4 separate regions of the Homo sapiens genome follow, and all the other regions are linked to region 1. Evidence: fine-mapped expression QTL. A gene starts in region 1. Each other region holds a variant in brackets. All regions are shown on one strand. Distances are from middle to middle.

Region 1 (5,449 bases):
CATCTCTACTAAAAATACAAAAAACATGAGCTGGGTGTGGTGCTACACGTCTAATCCCAGCTACTGAGGAGACTGAGGTAGGAGAATCGCTTGAACCCAGGAGACGGAGCTTGCAGTGAGCTGAGATCGCGCCACTGCACTCCAGCCTGAGTGACAGTGAGACTCTGTCTCAGAAAAAAAAAAAAATAATAATAATAAATAAAATAAGAAGTATGGGCCCAGAGGTTAGAAAGCCTAGGTTCAGGTCAGACATAGCTCACTGCAGCCCCACCCTCCTGTGCTCAAGCGATCCTCCCATTTCAGCCTCCCGAGTAGCTGGAACTACAGGTGTGAGCCACTATGCCTGGCTAATTTTATTTTTTGGTAGAGACAGGGTCTTGCTATGTGCCCAGGCTGGTCTTGAACTCCTGGACTCAAGCAATCCTCTCGCCTCGACCTCCCAAAGCACTGGGATTACAGCAATGAGCCACCATGCCCAGCCTAAAGTATTTTAGAGTCTGGTTATATTAGAAGGTTGCGATTGGAAAAGTCTTACAAGTGATGGCAGATTGAACAGATTAAAAACTAGGCCCAGTAGGTCAGGAGCGGTGGCTCACGCCTGTAATCCCAGCACTTTGGGAGGCCAAGGTGGGTGGATCCCCTCAGGTCAGGAGTTCGAGACCAGCCTGACGTGGTGAACCCTATCTCTGCCGAAAATATAAAAATTAGCTGGGCGTGACAGCGTGCCCCTGTAATCCCAGCTACTTGGGAGGCTGAGGCAGGAGAATCACTTGAACGTGGGAGGCAGAGGTTGCAGTGAGCCAAGATCGCGCCATTGCACTCCAGCCTGAGCGACAGAGCAAGACTCCATCTCAAAACAACAACAACAACAACAAACAAAAAACTAGGCCCAGCAAGGGGAGAGACTTGCTGGGGTCCTGCAGCAGTGCAGTGGGTGAGACTGGCCAGCTTGGGCTGGGCTGGCTTTGAACTCAGGTCCATGTAACGCATTGATGATTGTCCTGACCAGCACCTTTTGTGAAACTAGTGCAGGGGGCCTTTATCATTCTGCATCTGGCAAGCCCTGCCACTCCTTCTTACAAGCATGGTGTTTATGTAATTTTCTTTTTTGTGGAATGGGGTCTTCATGTTGCCCAGGCTGGAGTGCGATGGCACAGTGGAGTGCAAATGCACAATCACTGCAACCTCCAACTCCTGGGCTCAAGTGATCCTCCTACCTCAGCCTCTCAATTAACTAGCACTACTGGTGCACACCACCATACCTGTCTAATTTTTTGTATTTTTTTGTAGAGATGGAGTCTCCCTATGTTGCCAGGCTGGTCTAGAACTCCTGGCCTCAAGCAATCCTCCAGCCTTGGCCTCCCAAAGTGTTGGGATTGCAGGCGTAAGCCTCCATGCCCTGCCTTACGTGCATTAATTACAATACACAGAATTACAAAACAAAAAGCAATGATATTGAAATGGCATCAAAATGCTTTAAAAACAAATTTCTGCTATACTAGTATAGATGCTTATTTTCAATGCATGAAATAACAAGACCCTATCATAATTTCTTTTCTTTTCTTTTTTTTTTTTTGAGACAGTCTCTCACTCTGTCCTCAGGCGTGACCTCGGCTCACTGCAATTTCCGCCTCCCGGATTCAAGCGATTCTCCTGCCTCAGCCTCCCCTGGAGCTGGGACTACAGACGCATGCCACCAAGCCCAGCTAATTTTTGTATTTTTAGTAGAGACAGGGTTTCACCATGTTGGCCAGGATGGTCTGGATCTTTTGACCTTGTGATCCGCCCGCCTCGGCCTCCCGAAGTGCTGGGATTACAGCCGTGAGCCACCGCGCCCGGCCGACTCTATCATAATTTCAAAGCAGTAATAAATGTAAGTGACAGCTTAAGATACCACCTTGTAGTTGCTGCACAAACTGGGTTTTTTTGCGTCTCACTCTGTCACCAGGCTGGAGTGGGGTGGTACAATCTCGGCTCAATGCAACCTCTGCCTCCCGGGTTTAAGCCATGCTCATGCCTCAGCCTCCCAAGTAGCTGGGATTACAGGAACGCGCCACTACTCCAGGCCAATTTTTATATTTTCAGTAGGGACGGGGTTTTGCCATCCTGTCCAGGCTGGTCTCGAACTCCTGACCTCACGTGATCCTCTCGCCTCAGACTCCCAAAGTGCTGAGGTTACAGGTGTGAGCCACCATGCCTGGCCCTGCACAAACTGTTATCTGGAACTATCATTTACACTCACCCTCACAGTTTCAGGCACTGCTAAGGCTGCTCCAGCAATCAGGAAAGGAAATGCTATACTTCACATAGAGAAAAATAGGGGTGCATTTTGTTCCTACACAAGCTCATTACCCCACCCTGGTTAAAAAAAACCCTGAATTAGGCTGTATAGTGGCTCATGCCTGCAATTCCAGCACTTTGGGAGGCCCAGGCAGGAGGATCGCTTTGGGCTTGGGGCCAGGAGTTCGAGACCAGCCTGGGCAACATAGCAAGACCCGCCACCCGCCCCCCCAACCCCGCCGTCTCTACAAAAATTAAAAATAAAATTTTAAAAATTAGCCAAGTGTGGTGGTGCAGCGTCTGTAGTTCCAGCTACTCGGGAGGCTGAGGTGGGAGGATCGCTTGAGTCTGAGAAGTTGACTGCAGTGAGCTATGATCGTACCCCTGTACTCCAGCCTGGGCCACAGAGCGAGAAAAAACCCTGAATTAGAGACACGCTGCGGCCGTCCTTCCTCGGAGAGACCCGCCCCTCCTCAGAGGCCCACCCGGACCCTCAGGCCAACGCCGACCCCTCTCCACACGGACTTCTGCAGCCTCAGTTTCCCTCCTCAGACGCCCCCGGCTCCAATCCCGGCTCGGGCACTTCCTTCCCCTCTGGCGTGTCTTGGCCCGGGTCCCGGGGCTCCTGCGAGGATCACACAGGAACTCACTTGAAGTGTCCGGCGCAGTGCACTCCGACGGGGAGCCCTGCCCGGTCCCCGCGGCGAACCAGTCTCTTCCTCGGGTCCCCCTCTCCCCAAGCGCGCAGGCGCAATCCGCGTCGCCGACTCACGCGGCTGGTTTCAGGTTTCTGGCGAGGCCGGTGTTCGGCTGGCGGCTAGCTGGGACTAGCGGAACGGCGGAGTCTCGATTGGCAGTGCCTGGACAGGCGCAAGGGCCGGCGCGGGCTCCGGGCGCTCCCGGCATCCCTCGGGCGGCGGCGGCGGCGGCGGCGAGGCGAAGCGAAGGAGGAGTGTGTGCGGCGGGGCCGGCGGCGGGTAAAGGCGAGAAGGCTGCAGGAGACCGAGGGGGAGCCGGGCCGGTGGGGCCGCCGCCGCCGCCATGCAGGAAATCATCGCCAGCGTGGACCACATCAAGTTTGACTTGGAGATCGCGGTGGAGCAGCAGCTGGGGGCGCAGCCGCTGCCCTTCCCCGGCATGGACAGTGAGCGCGGGGCCCGGGCGGGAGGGCAAGAGCGACTCGAACCCGGGACCCGCTCCTCTGTGATCCCGGGACTCCCTCGCCTCGGTCCTGAGACCTCCCCCGGCTTCCTCTGGATCCTGGGACCCCTCCCCTTTGGTCGCAGGACTCCTCCCTCTAGGTCTTGAGAGTCCCTCCCACCTCCTCCGGGTCCTGGGATCCTCCCCTTTAGTTACCGAACTCCCTCATCTGTGGTCCCGAGACTCTTCCCACTCCATCCTGAGACCTCCTCTTCTGGATCCCGGGACGCTCCCCTTGGTTTCAGGACTCCTGACTCCCAGGCCCCCATTTCCACCGTCTGGGGACTCCTTTTACCCTCACTCGGACTCAGGAGTTCACTGCCTCGGATCTTTGGCCCTCTGCGGCTGTTCAAAGGTAATCTGTAGGAGGGTAGACCTTGTCTGTTCGCTTAATTCTTGAATAAGGGTGGGTTATCCTGGATTGGAACTCTCCCTCAACACTCTCCCAACTGCAGGAGAGTACTAGGATATCACACCCGCTACGTTGAGCGTCTCTTCTTGATTTCATCAAAACTAGGCGGTTGGAGGAGATGTGCTGAGGGAAGGACCACCTTTCTGTAGGAGACCCCAGCTAGACTCTCAAACTCCCTTCTAGGACTCACTCTCCTGGGAGCTCATCCCTAGTTTTTGGCCCGTCCCTACTTTTTTCTGGACCCCAACTCTGAGTTATTCATCACACCCAGCAGCTGGTGTGGACCCTTGGCCTGAACTCCCTTCACTGCTCCCCTTCATATGGTGGCTCCTGGCTTCCCACCTCCTACTCGGTGGGATATCTTGTACTTTAAAAGAAACCAGTAGTTTTCTTTGTGTCTTCTTTCCTATCTGGACATACTTGAAATCTAATGCTATAACCTTAAAGTTTGGGGGCTTGTGGAAGTCACTGAGTTCAATCCACAGATGGGGAAACTGAGACCCAAGCGGGGGAAGGGACTTGCTGACAATCACTCAGTGCATAGCAGAGGCGGGCAAGCTCTCCAGTGTTGTGTGCTGTCGCCCACAACTACCAGCGGGGTCTCCCACCGCTCCCAGCAGCCTCACTCCCCTCAGGCGGTCACACCTTCTCATGCACATGTGACCTCTGAGTCTGTCCCTTTATGTGTTTTTGTTGTTGTTGTTTGTTTGCTTTTGAGACAGGGGCCCCTCTGTCGCCCAGGCTGGGTGCAGTGACGCAATCATGGCTCAATGCAGCCTCGACTTCCCAGGCTCCAGCAATCCTCCCACCTCAGTCTCCCAAGTAGCTGGGACCACAGGCATGCACCAACACGCCTGGCAAATTTTTTTGTGTGTATTTCTTGGTAGAGACACTATTTCATCATGTTTCCCAGGGTTGGTCTTGAACTCCTGGGCTCAAGTGATCCTTTTACCTCGGCCTTCGGAAGTACTGGGATTATAGGCATGAGCCACTGCACCTGGCATATATATATATATATATATTTTTTTTTTTTTTTTTTTCCTGCCTGTCCCACAACTTTACATGGTGATAGTTCTGTACAAGATAGTTTCATTGGAAATTAATTAAGTCTTCAAGAAGACAAGATAGTGCTTATAAGGAGACATCATCAGACCACCCTATTTGACACAGGCACAAACACCATCACCACTGTACACTCCCTAAAAAGCAGCTGCTCAAATTCACACACACACACCCCCTCTTACCTACCCCTCGACTCTTGTGATCATCCCTGCACATGTGGCCTTTTCCTGTCTTTTTTTTTTTTTTTTTTTTGAGACAGAGTTTTGCTTTTGTCACCCAGGCTGGAGTGCAATGGTGCGATCTCGGCTCACTGCAACCTCCACCTCCCAGGTTCAAGCAGTTCTGCTGCCTTGGCCTCCTGAGTAGCTGGGATTATAGGCGCCCACCACCACGCCCAACTAATTTTTGTATTTTTAGTAGAGATGAGGTTTCACCATGTTGGCCAGGCTGGTCTTGAACTCCTGACCTTAAATGATCCACCTGCCTCGGCCTCCC
Region 2 (5,449 bases), 89 kb after region 1:
AAGATTTGTCTCTGCAAACCATATTAAAACATCAGTGTTTTGAGTAAAGTATCTTGCTGATACAGTTGAACAAAGGAACTAATTATAGCCACTGAAACATCCACGGTTCTATCAGTGACTGCTGAACATTAACCTAGCTCTTGAAAGTAGTAGGTTCTTCTCAGGATATAGAAAGAATGTCTTTTTTCTTTTAGATTAATTCATACCAAACTGAAATCCTTTGGGCATTGAGAAACCTAGAAAGATCACCTTTCTTTTCTAGGCTATGAATTCACAGGAAGAGGAAGGTGAAGATGGGGTTAGCTGCATAACCTGCTATCCAGTTTTATTAAGAATATTGCCCAGTCGTGACTGGGCGCGGTGGCTCATGTCTGTAATCCCAGCACTTTGGGAGGCCGAGGCGGGCAGATCACTAGGTCAGGAGTTCGAGACCACCTGGCCAATATGGTGACACCCTGTCTCTGCTAAAATTACAAAAATTAGCTGGGCGTGGTGATGTGCGCCTGTAGTCCCAGTGACTTGGGAGGCTGAGGCAGAAGAATCACTTGAACCCGGGAGGCAGAGGTTGCAGTCAGCCGAGATCGCGCCACTGCACTCCAGCCTGGGTGGCAGAGTGAGACTCCGTCTCAAAAGAAAAAAAAAAAAGAATATTGCCCAGTCGCGTTGGCTCACGTCTGTAATCCCAGCACTTTGGGAAGCTGAGGTGGGAGGATCACTTGAGCTCAGGAGTTTGAAACCAGCATGGGCAACATAATGAGACCCTCATCTCTACAAAAATATAAAAATTAGCTGAGCATGGTGGTGTGCAACTGTAGTCCTAGCTACTTGGGAGGCTGAGGTGGGAGGATCGCTTGAGCCCAAGAGGTTGAGGATGCAGTGAGCCATGATTGCCCCACTGCACTCCAGCCTGGGTGACAGAGTGAGACCCTGTCTCAAAACACACACATACACGCGCGCGCGCACACACACACACACAAGAGAACATTTAACATGATACAGGTATTTGTAAGTGCCACACTGAGAGGAGACCCTCTTCGTTCAGTGGAATGACTGATTTTCAGTCTCCTTCCTCTGAACATTTTTTGCCAGCTCTTCCTTCCCTAACCTCCCTCACTTTTCTGCTTGAATATTTTTCATCCCATCCCTGTACTGTAAAAGTCCCTTTACAGAATCATGGATCCCTAGCACATGTCAGTTTCTCTTCATTATCCCCTCATTTTATTTCTTCAAATTCAAGGAAAAGCTCATTTTTTAATTCTCCCTCTGTTATTTCAGGTTATGAGTCCAGGGACAATATGGAGCTCATAGTGAAGCAGATTTCTGATGACTCTGAATCACACTGGGTGGCGCCAGAACACACCGAAAGGAGCGTTCCTCAGGATCCAGACTTTGCAGAAGTCAGTGACCTTAAAGGCATGGTACAAAGGTGGCAGGTCAACCCCACTGTGGGGAAATCAAGGCAGAATCCTTCCCAGAAAAGGGATCTGGATGCAATCACAGACATCAGCCCTAAGCAAAGCACACATGGCGAGAGAGGGCACAGATGCAGCGATTGTGGCAAATTCTTCCTCCAAGCCTCAAACTTTATTCAGCATCGGCGCATCCACACTGGAGAAAAACCGTTTAAGTGCGGAGAATGTGGGAAGAGCTACAATCAGCGGGTGCACCTCACCCAGCACCAGCGCGTCCACACAGGGGAGAAACCCTACAAATGTCAGGTGTGCGGAAAGGCTTTCCGGGTGAGTTCCCACCTGGTTCAGCACCACAGTGTCCACAGCGGAGAGAGGCCCTATGGCTGCAATGAGTGTGGGAAGAACTTCGGTCGCCATTCGCATCTGATCGAACACCTAAAACGCCACTTCAGGGAGAAATCCCAGAGATGTACGTGTGAGGAGTTTATATCCGGGGGATAAATGGAGGCGAAAAGCAAAAGGTGTTTTATTAGTACGGTACAACAGGACAGATGGGTGGTGATACTGGGGGGGGTAGGAAGAGGCAAAGGTTATCGTTTATTTGGTTCTTATGTATTTATTTTTTGAGACAGTCTCGCTCTGTCGCCCAGGCTGGAGTGCAGTGGCGAGATCTCAGCTCACTGCAACTTCTGCCTCCCCGGTTCAAGCGATTCTCCTGCCTCAGCCTCCCAAGTAGCTGGGACAACAGGCGCGCACCAGCATGCCCGGGTAATTTTTGTGTTTTTAGTAGACACAGGGTTTCCCCATGTTGGCTAGGCTGGTTTTGAACTCCTGACCTCAGGCGATCTGCCTGCCTTGGCCTCCCAAAGTGCTGGGATTACAGGCATGAGCCACTGTGCTGGCTGTGCTCTCAGCTGTTAGTGGTTCCTTCTGGTAATTCTGTATTTTAAAATAAAACTATTATTAGTTGGCTCATCAATTTTAAATGTTATCTGTTGACTTTCTATGGTAGTAAATGAGGATTTGGCTCTCTTATATGCTTTTCTCTCTTTCCCCTTTTCCCAATTTAGTTATTTTACTTATTTTAAAACAATAGCCTGGGTACAGTGGCTCACACCTGTAATCTCAGTGCTTTGGGAGGCGGCTGAGCTAGGAGGATTACTTGAGGCCAGGCATTCAAGACCACCCTGGGCAACATAGCAAGACCTTGTCTCTACAAAAAAATTTAAAAATTACCTGGGCATGGTGGCATGTGCCTGTAGTTGCAGCTCCTCGGAAGGCTGAGGTGGGAGGATCTCTTAGCCC[A/G]GAAGTTCAAGACTACAGTGAGCTATAAATGTGTCTGTGAATAGCCACTGCACTCCAGACTGGCTAACAGAGTGAGACTTCTCAAATAACAAACAAACACAAACCCAATAAAATAACAGTAGTACAGGAAGCTTGGAGAAAATAAAAAGAAAAAATAAATCACCCATAATCACATCACCCTAACTAATAGAACTGTTATTACTTAGTATGTTTCCTTTTTTTTTTATAAGTCTGTTTCACGTAGTCGTACTCAGAATTAAATATTAAGCGTACACATTTTCCAGGGCTGTTCAGCCCTCCTTTTTATTTCTGACAGTCTGCCATTGTGTGGTGGCATTGTAATTTACTCAAGTGTTCCCAGTTGTTGAACTTCAATTTTTTTCTCTTTTGTCCCGATAACTGTTTATGCCTGTGACTTTTTCTTTTTTTCTTTTCTTTTCTTTTTTTGAGACGGAGTTTCACTCTTGTTGCCCAGGCTGGAGTGCAATGGCACGATCTCAGCTCACTGCAACCTCTGCCTCCCAGGTTCAAGCGATTCTCGTGCCTCAGCCTCCTGAGTAGCTGAGATTACAGGCATTTGCCACCATACCTGGCTAATTTTTTTTTGTATTTTTAGTAGAGATGGGGTTTCACTATATTGGCCAGGATGGTCTCGAACTCCTGACCTCAAGTGATCCACCCGCCTTGGCCTCCCAAAGTGCTGGGATTATAGGTGTGAGCTACCATGCCGGGCCAGTATTTTTAAACATCTGTTCAAATGACAGTAAATTTATCTGTGAATGAGATCGTCATAAACTGTGCTGTGAACTTAAAGGCCCTTACTAATATTCTTCAGATGATTCTAAGACCAGCCAAAATGTTTTTCTTTTTTTTTTTTTTTTTTTTAATTCTGCCTTTGATGTTTACAGCCACGCTGCATCTTCCACCATGGCACAGAAGTCAGTAAAGTGTCTTTAAAGTTCTGGGTTTGAGCTGAGCTATCCTCTCAGCTAGTGTTTTCCCGTTCTACTCGATGATTCCCTCATTTGGAAAATCCACCAATAGCGCTTTGGACTTGAAAAAGCAATCGCTTTAAAATAGTTATCTTTTGTTTTCTACCTTCCCTGCAATTGTTTCTATGGCTAGTTTCCCAGTGAATACTCACTTGCCTTCCACATTTTTTTTGTGGGGCGGGGGCGTTTTTGTATTTTGAGATAGGGTCTTGCTCTGTCACACAGGCTAGGGTAAAGTAGCGGGATCTCAGCTCACTGCAGCCTCCACTTCCTGGGCTGAACTAATCCTCCCACCTCAGCTTCCTGCATAGCTGGGACTACAAGTGTTCACCACCACACCCAGCTAATTTATGTATTTTTTGTAGAGAAGGGGTCTGGCTCTGTTGCCCAGGCTGGTCTTGAACTTCTAGGCTTAAGCGATCCTCCAGCCTTGGCCTCCACAAGTGCTAGGAGTTACAGGTGTGAGCCACCATGCCCGGTCCTCCCTCATTTTTCTGGATCAAAGGGGGAATACATGTTTTGCACATCCAGCCATATTATTGAGAGTCTGTGTTGCTAGTTGCACAGGATCTGCAGTGACCAGAACAGAGATACAGTCCATGCTCTCATGCAGCCGATGGTCTGGTGGGGGTAGCAGATAGTAAAGGTGATGAGCATTCCCAAAGGAGAAGGATGACATGCCGGGGGAGGAAAACTGAGGCTAGAATGTTGGCTAAGGGTGAAGGGGGCAGGGATTGCTGTATCACCCACCCTCTGACAATGCTTCTTGTTGGCTCATTTTGCCTTATTTCCTGACTCCTAGTCAGATATTCCCTGACTGCATACCCTCTTCATCATCCTTCACTCTCATTCTTCCAGTTTTTGTCAGTTCTCACCACCCAGTTATGTATTTGTTTTTTGTTTTTCTTTTTTGAGATGGAGTCTCACTCTGTCACCCAGGCTGGAGTGCAGTGATGTGATCTCAACTCACTGCAGCTTCTGCCTCCTGGGTTCAGGCGATTCTTCTGCCTCAGCCTCCCGAGTAGCTGGGACTACAGGCACCTACCACGATCCCTTGCTAATTTTTGTATGTTTAGTAGAGATGAGGTTTTACCATGTTGGTCAGGCTGGTCTTGAACTCCTGACCTCAGGTGATCCACCTGCCTCAGCCTCCCAAAGTGCTGGGATTATAGGCACGAGTCACCACACCCAGCCTGCTACATTTTCTTTATCAACTCATTGCTCAACGGGCACTTAGATTGGCTCCATATCTTTGCAGTTGTGAATTGTGCTGCAGAAGACAGGCGCTTACAGTCTTTTTGGTATATTGTCTTTTCCTTTGTGTAGATATACCCAGTTGTGGAATTGCTGGATCAAATGGCAGATCTACTTCTGGTTCTTGAAGAAGTCTCCATACTGTTATCCACAGAAGTTGTATTAATTTATCTCTCACCAGCAATGTATAAGCGTTCCCTTTTCACCACATCCATGCCAACATCTATTGTTTTTTGACTTCTTTGTTTTTTTTGAGATGGAGTCTCGCTGTGTTGCCCAGGCTGGAGTGCAGTGGCGCAATCTTGGCTCACTGCAACCTCTGCCTCTTGGGTTCAAGCAATTCTCTGCCTCAGCCTCTGGAGTAGCTGTGATTACAGGGCACCCACCACCATGCCCAGCTAATTTTTGTATTTTTAGTAGAGATGGGGTTTCACTGTCTTGGTCAGGCTGGTCTTGAATTCCTGACCTCGTGATCCACCCACCTCG
Region 3 (5,449 bases), 230 kb after region 1:
TCTTACTTTCTACCTGTCCCCAGATTCATTCTTTACATTTCTAATTAAGACTCATCTTATTTTCATACCTCCTTGAGTTTTCCGCTGGTGAAGGTTGGAGACAGCAATGACCGTATTCTCTTCCATTCTTCATCCTCAGCTAAAGAGATGGCACTTTTCATAAATCCCACTGGGCCTAAAGACTAGAGTTCAACAGAAACATTTTTTCTCACATTAGTTGTGGTGATCTTCATGGTTGCACAAAATATATTGAAGAGGCATCCTTATTTAACAAATATTTATTGACTGTATATGATATTATGGCAAGCCATATTCAAGATGCTCAATGGAGATCCTAGATGCCTAGCCTCTTCTGAGTGTATGTGGGGCGGGGGTGGGAGTGGGGAGACCCAGCCATCTGGTGTGGTCTCCTGCCTCTATATCTCAGTCTCCTTTTAATTGCAAATGCTCCACGTGGTAGGGAACTGTTCTTCCAGTGGAATAGACAGGAACAAGACCTAGCCCTTCCCCAGGAGTGTGCAGAGTAGAAAAGGATTGGTGACAGATGGGCAGACTGTATGTTGCCTCAGACCAGCTCTGTCTTTAATACACCTACAGCATGGGCAACTTGAAAAAGGGATGCCATGATGTGGTGATTTTTTTTTGAAAAGTAGGTAATACTTAAAGACTAGAAACCTGTTTTGAAGGAATAATGCAATTTCCTTGAAAATTCTTTTCTCTTAATTTTTTATTCCATAAATAGAAGGAAAAAGAAAGGGATAATTACTTTTCCCAACTTGGGGCTGGACTATCAAGCCAGCATGCTTGGAACTTTCTCTTATCTTCCACAACTATGTTTTGTTTTAAAATGTGTACTTCCAGCTGTCATGATAAAATCTCAATAAACTAGGAAGAGAGAGACAGTTCCTTCATTTGATAAAGACAATCTGTAAAAAAATCATTCAGTTAAATCACATTTAATGATGAAGGACTGAATGGTTTTTCCAAGATCAAGAAGAACTAAAAAATGCCCACTCTCAACATTCTTACTAAAGAGCATACCTGATGTCTTAATACACTAGACAAGAAAAAGAAATAAAAGGCATACAGATTGGAAAGGAAATAATAGAATTGTCTCTATTTTCAGGTGACATAATTGTCAATGTATAAAATGTCAAGGAATATACAAAAAAATTTCTAGAACGAATAGGTAAGTTCTGCAAGGCTATAGGATACAAGATCAACAAACAAAATTATTCACATTTCTATGTAACAATAATCAATATCTGAAAATACAAGAAAAACAGTATCATTTACAGTTACTCCAACAAAAATGAAATATTTCTGGTGTAAATCTAACAAAAGATGTACAGGACCTCTATGCTGAAAACTATAAAATGTTGAGGAAAGTAATAAAAGCTAAAGAAATGGAGAGGCATACTATATTCACGGGATGAAAGGCTGAACATAGTAAAGATATAGATTATACCCAAATTGTTCTATTGGTTTAATTCAAGCTTGTCCAACTTGTGGCCTGCAGGCCTCATGCAGTCCAGGATGGCTTTGAATGTATCCCAATACAAATGTGGAAACTTTCTTAAAACATTTTGAGTTTTTTTGCAATTTTTTTTGTAATTTTGTAATTTGACTATGTGATTCTCAAGTGTGAACTTCGTAGACAACAATGGAATGGAAAGGGGTAATCAGAGTATGTCACATCCACAAATAATGGACTAGTATCCATAATTTGCATTATAATTGCAAACAGTTCAGCAAGAAGAAATTAAAAGCCATTAAAATTAACTAACAAAGAGCGAGAGGACGCTATTGCAGTGCCACGTGAAGTGAATTGTGACAAAGAATTCAAGTGTGTATTCTGGACAAGGCAGAGCGCTGCTGTACACCAGACACTGTCGCCATTTGTACGCATGTGTGGCTTCAGTTTTATGGTGGTGTGCGACTTCCAGTGTGTTATCTTCTAATCACGGACAGTTGAATTGACACTGTCAGGTATTAGGTGTGTTTGTGGCAATTTGGCAAGTAAAACCCAGCAATTATCAATAATATTTCAACCTACCTTTGTAGATGATAGGTGTTTAATATTATTTAGAAGACATGTAAGTATTCTTATTTGATTATTAAACCTTGCTTTCTGTTCTATTTTCCTATCTGTTAATTTCCATAATAAAAGTAAATATAGTTGCTTATCTATTATAATGCTTTTAATTCCAGAATGGCTTCCACAATGTCTTAAAAAGAAAACCCTAAAAAACAAAAATTATGGATGAAGGAAGATTGTTCAATGAAAAGTGGACAAATGACTTTTTCTTGTTGAGGCAAATAGCGAAGCACTCTGCTTAATTTCCACGGAATTTGTGCCAGTTTTCAAAGACTACAATTTGAAGAGGCATTATATGCAAAAACGTGCTGACAAATTTGGTGTGTATGTGTTGTAAGGACAAAATAGCAGAACTGAAAAAAAGTCTGTCTTTTCAACAAAAAAGATTTTTTAAAAAGTTACAACTCGGACTCAATCGTAAGGTAAAACCTAGTTATGTGGTAGCAAATTTAATAGCAAAAAAATCAAAACCATTTACTGATGGTGAGTTTATTAAGCAATGTCTGGAAGATGTGGTAGATATTATTTGCCTTGAGAAACTGATATTTCTAAAATCAGTTTGTCTCACCAGACTATAGCCAGGAGAATTGGAGAAATTGGGAAATCTATTGAAAGACGTTTGGAGAGTAAAACTGCTAATTTAAAATTTTATGCTTTGGTGATGGATGAAGGCACTGACACTACAGATACGGCACAACTTGCTATTTTTATTAGAGGTATTGATGATGAATATAATGTCACTGAAGAAATCGAAATGTCACCATGCTATTAAAAGACACAACTAAATCAAGAGATTTATATGAAGCAGTGAAAAATATGTTAAAGCAATTTTCTTTGTCCTTTGTAAACATATGTGATATAGCTACAGATGCTGCCCTGGCGATGGTAGGTAAAAGAGAGGGACTTGTACAATTAATAGATGATGCAGTTGCCACACAAAACTCACATTTGATGAAGTATTATTGCATAATACATCAAGAAAATCCATGTGCACAAGCTTTAAAAGTAGATAACGTCATGCAAATTGTCATCAAGGCTGTAAATTTCACAAGGGCCCAGGAATTGAATCATCGCTAGTTTCAGGAATTCCTTAAAAGTATGGA[T/G]GCTGACTCTAGCAAGTCATTCACTTTTTAGAAGTAAGATGGTTAAGTCAAGGCAAAATGTAAAGATTTTATGCTTTGTGATGTGAAATCAAGCTGTTTATGGTATCAAACAAAATTGGTGCCAGAACTTGACAATGAAAACTGGCTTACAGATTTAGCATTTTTAGTGGGTTTGACGGCCCATTTAAGTGAGTTAAACCTGTGTCTTCAAGTTGAAAACCAACTTAACAATACAATGTTTCAAACCATAACAGCATTCCATATGAAACTGAAATTATGGCAAGCTCAAATTAAGGCAAACAATTTTATGCATTTCGACATGTTGGCTAAACATGGTCCTGTGAACAGCCAAAAATACGCAGCCTTGCTTTTCAATTTGATACAGGAATTTGAAAACAGGTATTTCAAGATTTCTGAAAAAATCATCAATATTTTGGTATATTTGCAACTCCATTTTCAGTCGACATATATATGTTACCTGGCAATTTTGAAATGGAATGCCTAGAGCTGCAATCTGATGTTCAACTTATAGAAAAATTTGATTTTGCCTCTTTACTGGACTTTTGTAAGACCTGTCTTCCCAATGACAAATATCCCTTGCTTCACAATCACACCTTGTTCATGTCATTGCTTTTTGGCAGCACTTACATTTGTGAGCTACTATTTTCAAGGATGAAGAACACGAAGAGTAAAATTAGAACCAAAATATCTGATGAGCACCTTGAGAACTCACTGAGAATTGCAACTACTTCCATCAAGCCAGATACTGATGGATTAGTTTCTCAAAAACAATGTCAAGTACCCCACTAGTTTTATGTTGTTCTCTTTTCTTTTATAATAAAAAATATCAAAAAAGTAGTGAAGTTTAGCTAGATATGTACATTTTCTGTATCAGTGATTGCAAACTTGGAACCTGTTCAATGATTTTGAAAGACCCTCTGAATGGGGCAGTGCATAATTAGGATTATTATGCAAGGACATTTTTGCTTATCTGTGGTGGTAGATATATAATGAAAACTATACACAGACCATTTGTGTGTGTGTGTGTGTGTGTGTGTGTGTGTGTGTGTGTGTGTGTGTATTTTATGTGTGGCCCACGACACTTCTTCTTCCACTGTGGCCCAGGGAAGCCAAAAGATTGGACACCTCTGCTTTAATTCTTATCAAAATTATGGCAGGTTTGTTTGTAGACACTTACAAGCTTATTCTGAATTTTTATGGAAAGGCAAGGGACAAGAAAAGCTAAAGCCATTCTGAAAATATAAATCAATAAAGTGGAAAGAATTGCCCTATATGATGTTAAGAGTTACTGTACAGCTACTAGAGTCACCACAGTGTGGTATTAGTGGAGGAGTAAACAATAAGAAATAGATTCACAAAATATACTCAGCTGAGTTTTGACAATATGCCTACCTTTCCAAAATGGTGTTGGAACATTTGGACAGCCATAGTCCACAGAAAATGAACCTTGATCTAAATCTCATAACTTATGCAAATATTAACACAAAATGGGTAATAGAGTTACATTTTGTAAAGTGTTAAACTATATAACTCTTAGAAAAAGCAATGTAGGAAGGAGGGCTAAGCAAAGGATTTTCAGACTTAACACCAAAAGAACAATCCATAAAAGGAAATATTAATACATTGGCCTCCTCAAATAAATAAAAGTTTGCTCTGATATAGAACCTGTCAGAGAAAAAGACAAACTCCATGTTGTGACTGTAGGACAGCAGGAGGGAGCCACATGGTGACGGAATGGGTCTGCATCTTGATGGTGCTGGTCGTTGCACAAATCTACGAATGTGAAAAATTGCTTAGAACTACCCACACACATAAACACACACAAACAAGGGCATGTAAAACTGGTGAAATCTGAAAAGCTCTGTAAACTATATCAAAGTCAATTTCCTGTACTATAGTATTAGGTTGGTGCAAAAGTTATTGCAGTTTGCCGGTTTTTGTTGTTGTTGTTGTTGTTGTTGTTTGAGATGGAGTCTCATTGGGTTGCCCAGACTGGAGTATAATGGCGTGATCTCGGCTCACTGCAACCTCCGCCTCCCAGGTTCAAGCGATTCTCCTGTCTCAGACTACTGAGTAGCTGGGACTACAGGCGCATGCCACCACACGCAGCTAATTTTTGTATTTTTAGTAGAGATGGGGTTTCACCATGTTGGTCAGGCTGATCTCGAACTCCTGACCTCGTGATCCACCTGCCTCGGCCTCCCAAAGTGCTGGGATTACAGGCATG
Region 4 (5,449 bases), 27 kb after region 1:
TCCCAGCACTGTGGGAGGCCAAGGCAGGCAGATCACGAGGTCAGGAGTTCAAGACCAGCCTGGCCAACATAGTGAAACCTCATCTCTACTAAAAATACAAAAATTAGCTGGGCATGGTGGCGTGTGCCTGTAGTCCCCGCTACTCGGGAGGCTGAGACAGGAGAATCGCTTAAACCTGGGAGGTAGAGGTTGCAGTGAGCCAAGATCGTGCCACTGCAAGGGACTATCCAGTTCATCCAAGATGCATCTATACTTATTCCACGAATTTCTCTTTCACTGGAAGGCAAAGGAAGGCCTCAGTCCTTGGTTGCCCTATTGGAACTCCCACCCCAACTCTACACACACCCGCTCCTCTGCAGCACTGAAGCTTCCATCTGCAATCACTGGGTCACATAAAGAGACCCAGTAGAGTTCAGAGACAGAGCAGACCCTTGGGTCTAGTGCCATTCTGGGTTTAATGCCATTTTGTAGGTGTGTGCCCTTGGGCAAGGTACTACTCCTTCTCAGTTTCCTCCTTTGTGAAATCCTTGGTACTTGGCCCTAGGTACTATGTAAATGAGAACTATTACCACCTTTCTGCCTGGTTATGAGCTACCTGAAGGTGCGAATATCCCCACCACTTCTTGGTACACGACAGATTCTCAGTAATGGTTGTAGAACCACAGATCCTCGAGAGGAAACATACTGTTCATTACTATGAAGCCACATGGAAATAGCAAGTCTCTCCTGAGTGCTAAATCCAACCTGGGGGTTGTCCAGAGAATAAAGATTTTTGGATTTGCAGGCCACATAAGGTCTTCATAGCATAGTCTATTTTATTTTTAAACAATCTTTTTAAAAACAGAAAATGACCCAATGCAGTGGCTCACGCCAGTAATCCCAACACTTTGGCCGAGATGGGAGGACTGCTTGAGGCCAGGAGTTTGAGACCCCATCTCTATAATAAATAAAATAAAAACAAAAAACCATTCTAGGCCCTGTACAGTGGCTCACGTCTGTAATCCCAGCACTCTGGGAGGCCAAGGCAGGAGGATCACGAGCTCAGGAGTCTGAGACCAGCCTGACCAAAATGGCGAAACCCCATCTCTACTAAAAATACAAAAATTAGCCGGGTGTGGTGGCGGGCACCTGCAATTCCAGCTACTTGGGAGGCTGAGGCAGGAGAATCACTTGAACCTGGGAGGTGGAGGTTGCACTGAGCTGAGATCGTGCTATTGCACTGCAGCCTGGGCGACAAAAGCAAGACTCCATCTCAAAAAATAAATAAATAAATAAAAATAAAATATAAAAACAAAAAAACCATTCTGAGCTCATGGCCAGACAAAAACAGGCCACACGAAATCCAACTCACTGGCCATAGTTTGCCAACCGCGATCTTATCTACTGCTGCTAATTCATATTTCCCTCACTTTATGTGCTCATGAAATACTGTCTTTGTCCTCTGGTGACAGACACTACCTAAAAGATCATCAATACCTAAGAGACATGGACTCCAATTTCTTCACCGGGGGTGATGCTGAATAGGCCAGGCATGTGACATGACCCTGCCTAAAGGTCACAAAGTAAAGGCTGGGATGACCAGCTCACACCGACTGAGTACTCACTGTGGGCCACGCAGCGTTCCAAGTGTCTTTCACATGCTAAATCGATTGATCCTTAGTTCAGAGCTCTTGACCACAGCCCTATGCTTAAACAAAATGCCCCAGTGTTCACTTTTCACAGGTTGTCTCCTTAACACAACTACCGTGTACGACGAATGCTATTATGCCCATTTTACTGAGGGGAAAACAGCTTCCCTCTCATCTATTCTGAACCCCTCTTCATTTCTCTAGGCTGAGATTAAGAATACAGAGGCCGGAGGCCGGGCGCAGTGGCTCACACCTGTAATCCCAGCACTTTGGGAGGCTGAGGTGGGCAGATCACAAGGTCAGGAGATCGAGACCATCCTGGCTAACACAGTGAAACCCTGTCTCTACTAAAAATACAAAAAATTAGCTGGGCGGGGTGGCGGGCGCCTGTAGTCCCAGCTACTCAGGAGGCTGAGGCAGGAGAATGGCGTGAACCCGGGAGGCAGAGCTTGCAGTGAGCTGAGATCGCGCCACTGCACTCCAGCCTGGGCGACAGAGCGAGACTCCATCTCAAAAAAACAAACCAGAGGTCAGGCGCAGTGGCTCACGCTGGTAATCTCAACACTTTGGGAGGTCGAAGCAGGTGACTCACTTGAGGTCAAGAGTTTGAGACCAGCCTGGTCAACGTGGCGAAACCCATCTCTACTAAAAATACAAAAAAAAATTAGCCGGGCGTAGGTACTGGTGTGTGCCTGTAATCCCAGATACTTGGGAGGCTGAGGCAGCAGAATCATTTGAACCTGGGAGGCAGAGGTTGCAGAGACGAGATCAGCTACTGCACTCTAGCCTGGGCGACAGCGTGAGACTCCATGTCAAAAAAAAAGAATACAGAAACGCAGTGGCTCACACCTGTAGTCCCAGCACTTTGGGAGGCCGAGGTACATGGATCACCTGAGGTCAGGGGTTCAAGACTAGCCTGGCCAACGTGGTGAAAGCCCGTCTCTACTAAAAATACAAAAATTAGCTGGGCATGGTGGCCTGCGCCTGTAATCCCAGCTACTCGGAGGCTGAGGCTGGAGAATCGCTTGAACCCAGGAGGCAAAGGTTACAGTGAGCCGAGATCACACCATTGCACTCCACCCTGGGCGACAAGAGCGAAACGCCATCTCAAAAAAAAAATGATAAAAAAAA[A/C]CCAGAAACTGAGCTAAGACACACATGTGTTAATCAAAACTCTGCCACTATCAGGCTGTGTGACCTCAGAGAGGCCACACCACATCCCGAACAGTTATTTCCCTCATCTGTAAAATGGAATCGACTTTCCCAACAAGGACTCTCTGACAAGGCTACTATGGAGCATCTAGGGCTAACTATTCAAAAACAAACAAACAAAAATCATCAGTGTGCACAGCGGGATGAATGTAGCGATTTACACATGGGTGTCTCGGAAAAGCCTGCTAGTCATAAGGCCGTCCTAGAGAATAAAGTTCATTTACCACGAATCCTCAGGTTTGAATACCAGCTCAGCCCTCGCACGAGTTGTGACCTTGAACAGGTCACCTCGCCTCTCTGATTCAACATATATGCATCGAACCTTACATGGTATCAGGTACAGTCCTAGTCCTGAGCTCCTCCTGGAGCTTCATCTGAGCTTAAGCCTTGGGAAAAAAGGGCAAAAGCTGCGCCTAACATTCAAGTGCAAAGCAACTGGGTCGCAGCGGGAGAGGGAAGCGGCTATTTCTTAGCGGAAAGAGGAACAGTGGCCCAAGGCGGCGCATTCCCAGGCCCAGAAGCGCGTGCCCCAGATGCCTTCACCCTCCACGCCTAACCCGGTTGGCGCAGGCCCTGGGCAGCAGGAAGGCGCGCCTGGGCAGGCGGAGCGGGGTCTGGCGCGCCTCAAGTGAGGTCGTGGCGAAGTGCCTGAGCAAAGGGCAGGCAGCTCCGCAGCTTCCTTCTCTCCCAGTGTGGCTCTGGACCCTGGACCCTGGCTCCTGCTTCCACCACGGAGTCCAAACAGCCTTACCTGGGGCCGGACACTCACCAACTGACGCCATTTTGGAGTCCTGGTGTCCGCTGTGCCGGACCGCGCGAGGGCTGCTGGGTAGGGAATGCACGCCCCATCCAGGGGCGTAGAGCAGAGGCTCACGGGAAGCAGGTCACAACTGCGAACACCCTGGAACTACTAGAAGGCCATGAAGCGAAGGGCGAGGTGCCTGGACAGCAAAAATCCGAGGGTCCTGCAGTTAGAGAGAGGGGCGCCTCAGCCTGGGCTCTCTACCTTAAAAGGTGGGAAGAGGCCGCGCTGGGACTACAAGCGTGCACCAGCACAGCAAGCTAATTTTTGTATTTTTAGTAGAGACAGGGTTTCACCATGTTGGCCAGGCTGGCCTTGAACTCCTTTCCTCACGTGATCCCCCCGCCTCGGCCTCCCAAAGTTCTGGGGTTACCGGCGTGAGCCACCGCGCCCAGTCTATTTTTATTTTTATTTTTTACTTTTCAGACGAGCATTTACTTTTCAGACAGTGGCTTGATCACGGCTGACTGCAGCCTTGAACTCCCGGAGTCAAGCGATCCACCCATCTCAGCCTCCCAAGTAGCTAGGACTACAGGCTCACATCACCACTTCCAGCTTTTTTTTTTTTTTTTTTTTTTTTTTTTTTTTTTTGGTGGAAACAGTGTGGTGAGGAGTGGGGGTAGAGGCTCTCTATTTTGCTCAGGCTGGTCTTGAACTCCTGGCCTCAAGCGTTCTTCCTCCACCTCCGAAGTAGCTGGGACTACAGGTGCACGCCACCACGCCCAGCTAATTATATTTTGTAGAGAAGGCGTCTCCCTATGTTGCCTAGACTGCTCTTAAACTCTTGGCCTCGAGCGTTCCTCCTACCTCGGCCTCCCAAAATACTGGAACTGCCGGCATGAACCACACTGCCCGGGCTACTTCAATTTTGATTATTTTAATTAATTTATTTATTTATTTAGAGACAGAGTCTCGCTCTGTCACCCAGGCTAGAGTGCAGTGGCGCGATCTCGGCTCACTGCCAGCTCCACCTCCGGGGTTCACTCCATTCTCCTGCCTCAGCCTCCCGAGTAGCTGGGACTACAGGCGCCCACCACCACGCCTGGCTAATTTTTTGTATTTTTTTGTATTTTTAGTAGAGACGGGGTTTCAACATGTTAGCCAGGATGGTCTCAATCTCCTGACCTCGTGATCCACCCGCTTCGGCCTCCCAAAGTTCTAGGATTACAGGCGTGAGCCACCGCGCCGGGCCTCCGATTTTTAAAACAACCTCGAGAGCAGGTCTTGTAGTCATAACTTGCCAAATAAATGCCACCCTCGTTCAGTTCATTCTGCTACATTTCTTGTTTCAGAGGTGGCATTGTGGGGCTCCTCCATGTCTGCTTCCCTTCTCCCCAGGCAGTGAAAATCGCATATACAATTATAGGTGTGTGAAAGCACGGCCAGCATCGCCAGTGGGAATTAAAAATGGTTAAAAAAACAAAACAAAACAAACAGGCCAGGTGCGGTGGTTCACGCCTGTAATCCTAGCACTTTGGGAGGCAGAGGTGGGCGGATCACTTGAGGTCAGGTGTTCAAAACCAGCCGGGCCAACATGGTGAAAATACGAAAAAAATTAGCTGAGCGCGGTGGCAGGTGCCTGCAATTCCAGCTACTTGGGAGGCTGAGGCAGGAGAATCACTTGAACCTGGGAAGTGGAGGTTGCAGCGAGCGGAGGTCAAGCCACTGCACTCCAGCCTGGGCGGCAGAGCAAGACTCTGTCTCAAAAAAAACAAAAAACAAACAAACAAAAAAAAACCAGGCTGGTCGCGGTGGTTCACGCCTGTAATCCCAGCACTTTGGGAGGCCAAGGTGCGCGGATCACCTGAGA

Direction of the effects. Alleles are on the strand shown, and positions count from the first base shown. SD is a standard deviation of normalised expression in the study named. Not every link is listed here.
With allele G in place of A in region 2, the expression in lung of the gene that starts at base 3,037 in region 1 is higher (moderate effect, 0.58 SD a copy in GTEx).
As copies of G replace T in region 3, the expression in pancreas of the gene that starts at base 3,037 in region 1 goes up (large effect, 0.77 SD a copy in GTEx).

What was found. PIP is the estimated chance that this variant, and not a neighbour inherited with it, causes the effect.
Region 2: its variant is the best candidate, but not a certain one, in a credible set for the expression of PTCD1 in lung (GTEx, PIP 0.75).
Region 3: its variant is the best candidate, but not a certain one, in a credible set for the expression of PTCD1 in pancreas (GTEx, PIP 0.69).
Region 4: its variant is the best candidate, but not a certain one, in a credible set for the expression of PTCD1 in whole blood (TOPMed, PIP 0.61).

What each region holds. Positions count from the first base shown.
Region 1 is chr7:99,435,762-99,441,210 of GRCh38, forward strand. PTCD1 (pentatricopeptide repeat domain 1) reads right to left here and starts at 3,037. Exons shown (of 8, transcript NM_015545.4): 1 at 2,931-3,037. All of the region lies in intron 2 of ATP5MF-PTCD1 (ATP5MF-PTCD1 readthrough), which reads right to left. It overlaps CPSF4 (cleavage and polyadenylation specific factor 4), which reads left to right and starts at 3,182. Exons shown (of 8, transcript NM_006693.4): 1 at 3,182-3,424. The coding sequence starts at 3,322. RefSeq lists enhancers at 805-1,330, 2,627-2,916 and a silencer at 3,177-3,476.
Region 2 is chr7:99,524,538-99,529,986 of GRCh38, forward strand. It overlaps ZKSCAN5 (zinc finger with KRAB and SCAN domains 5), which reads left to right. Exons shown (of 7, transcript NM_145102.4): 6 at 1,276-1,881. Among named protein-coding and RNA genes, the nearest start is that of ZKSCAN5, 23 kb to the left of the region's middle. The variant A/G (reference allele first, on the strand shown) is at 2,718.
Region 3 is chr7:99,666,884-99,672,332 of GRCh38, forward strand. CYP3A5 (cytochrome P450 family 3 subfamily A member 5) reads right to left here. Exons shown (of 13, transcript NM_000777.5): 5 at 69-182. It also overlaps a transcript of ZSCAN25 not described here. Among named protein-coding and RNA genes, the nearest start is that of CYP3A5, 10 kb to the right of the region's middle. The variant T/G (reference allele first, on the strand shown) is at 3,202.
Region 4 is chr7:99,462,523-99,467,971 of GRCh38, forward strand. ATP5MF-PTCD1 (ATP5MF-PTCD1 readthrough) reads right to left here and starts at 3,645. Exons shown (of 9, transcript NM_001198879.2): 1 at 3,607-3,645. The coding sequence starts at 3,619. ATP5MF (ATP synthase membrane subunit f) reads right to left here and starts at 3,645. Exons shown (of 4, transcript NM_004889.5): 1 at 3,589-3,645. The coding sequence starts at 3,619. RefSeq lists enhancers at 2,814-3,431, 3,432-4,047, 3,714-3,833. The variant A/C (reference allele first, on the strand shown) is at 2,760.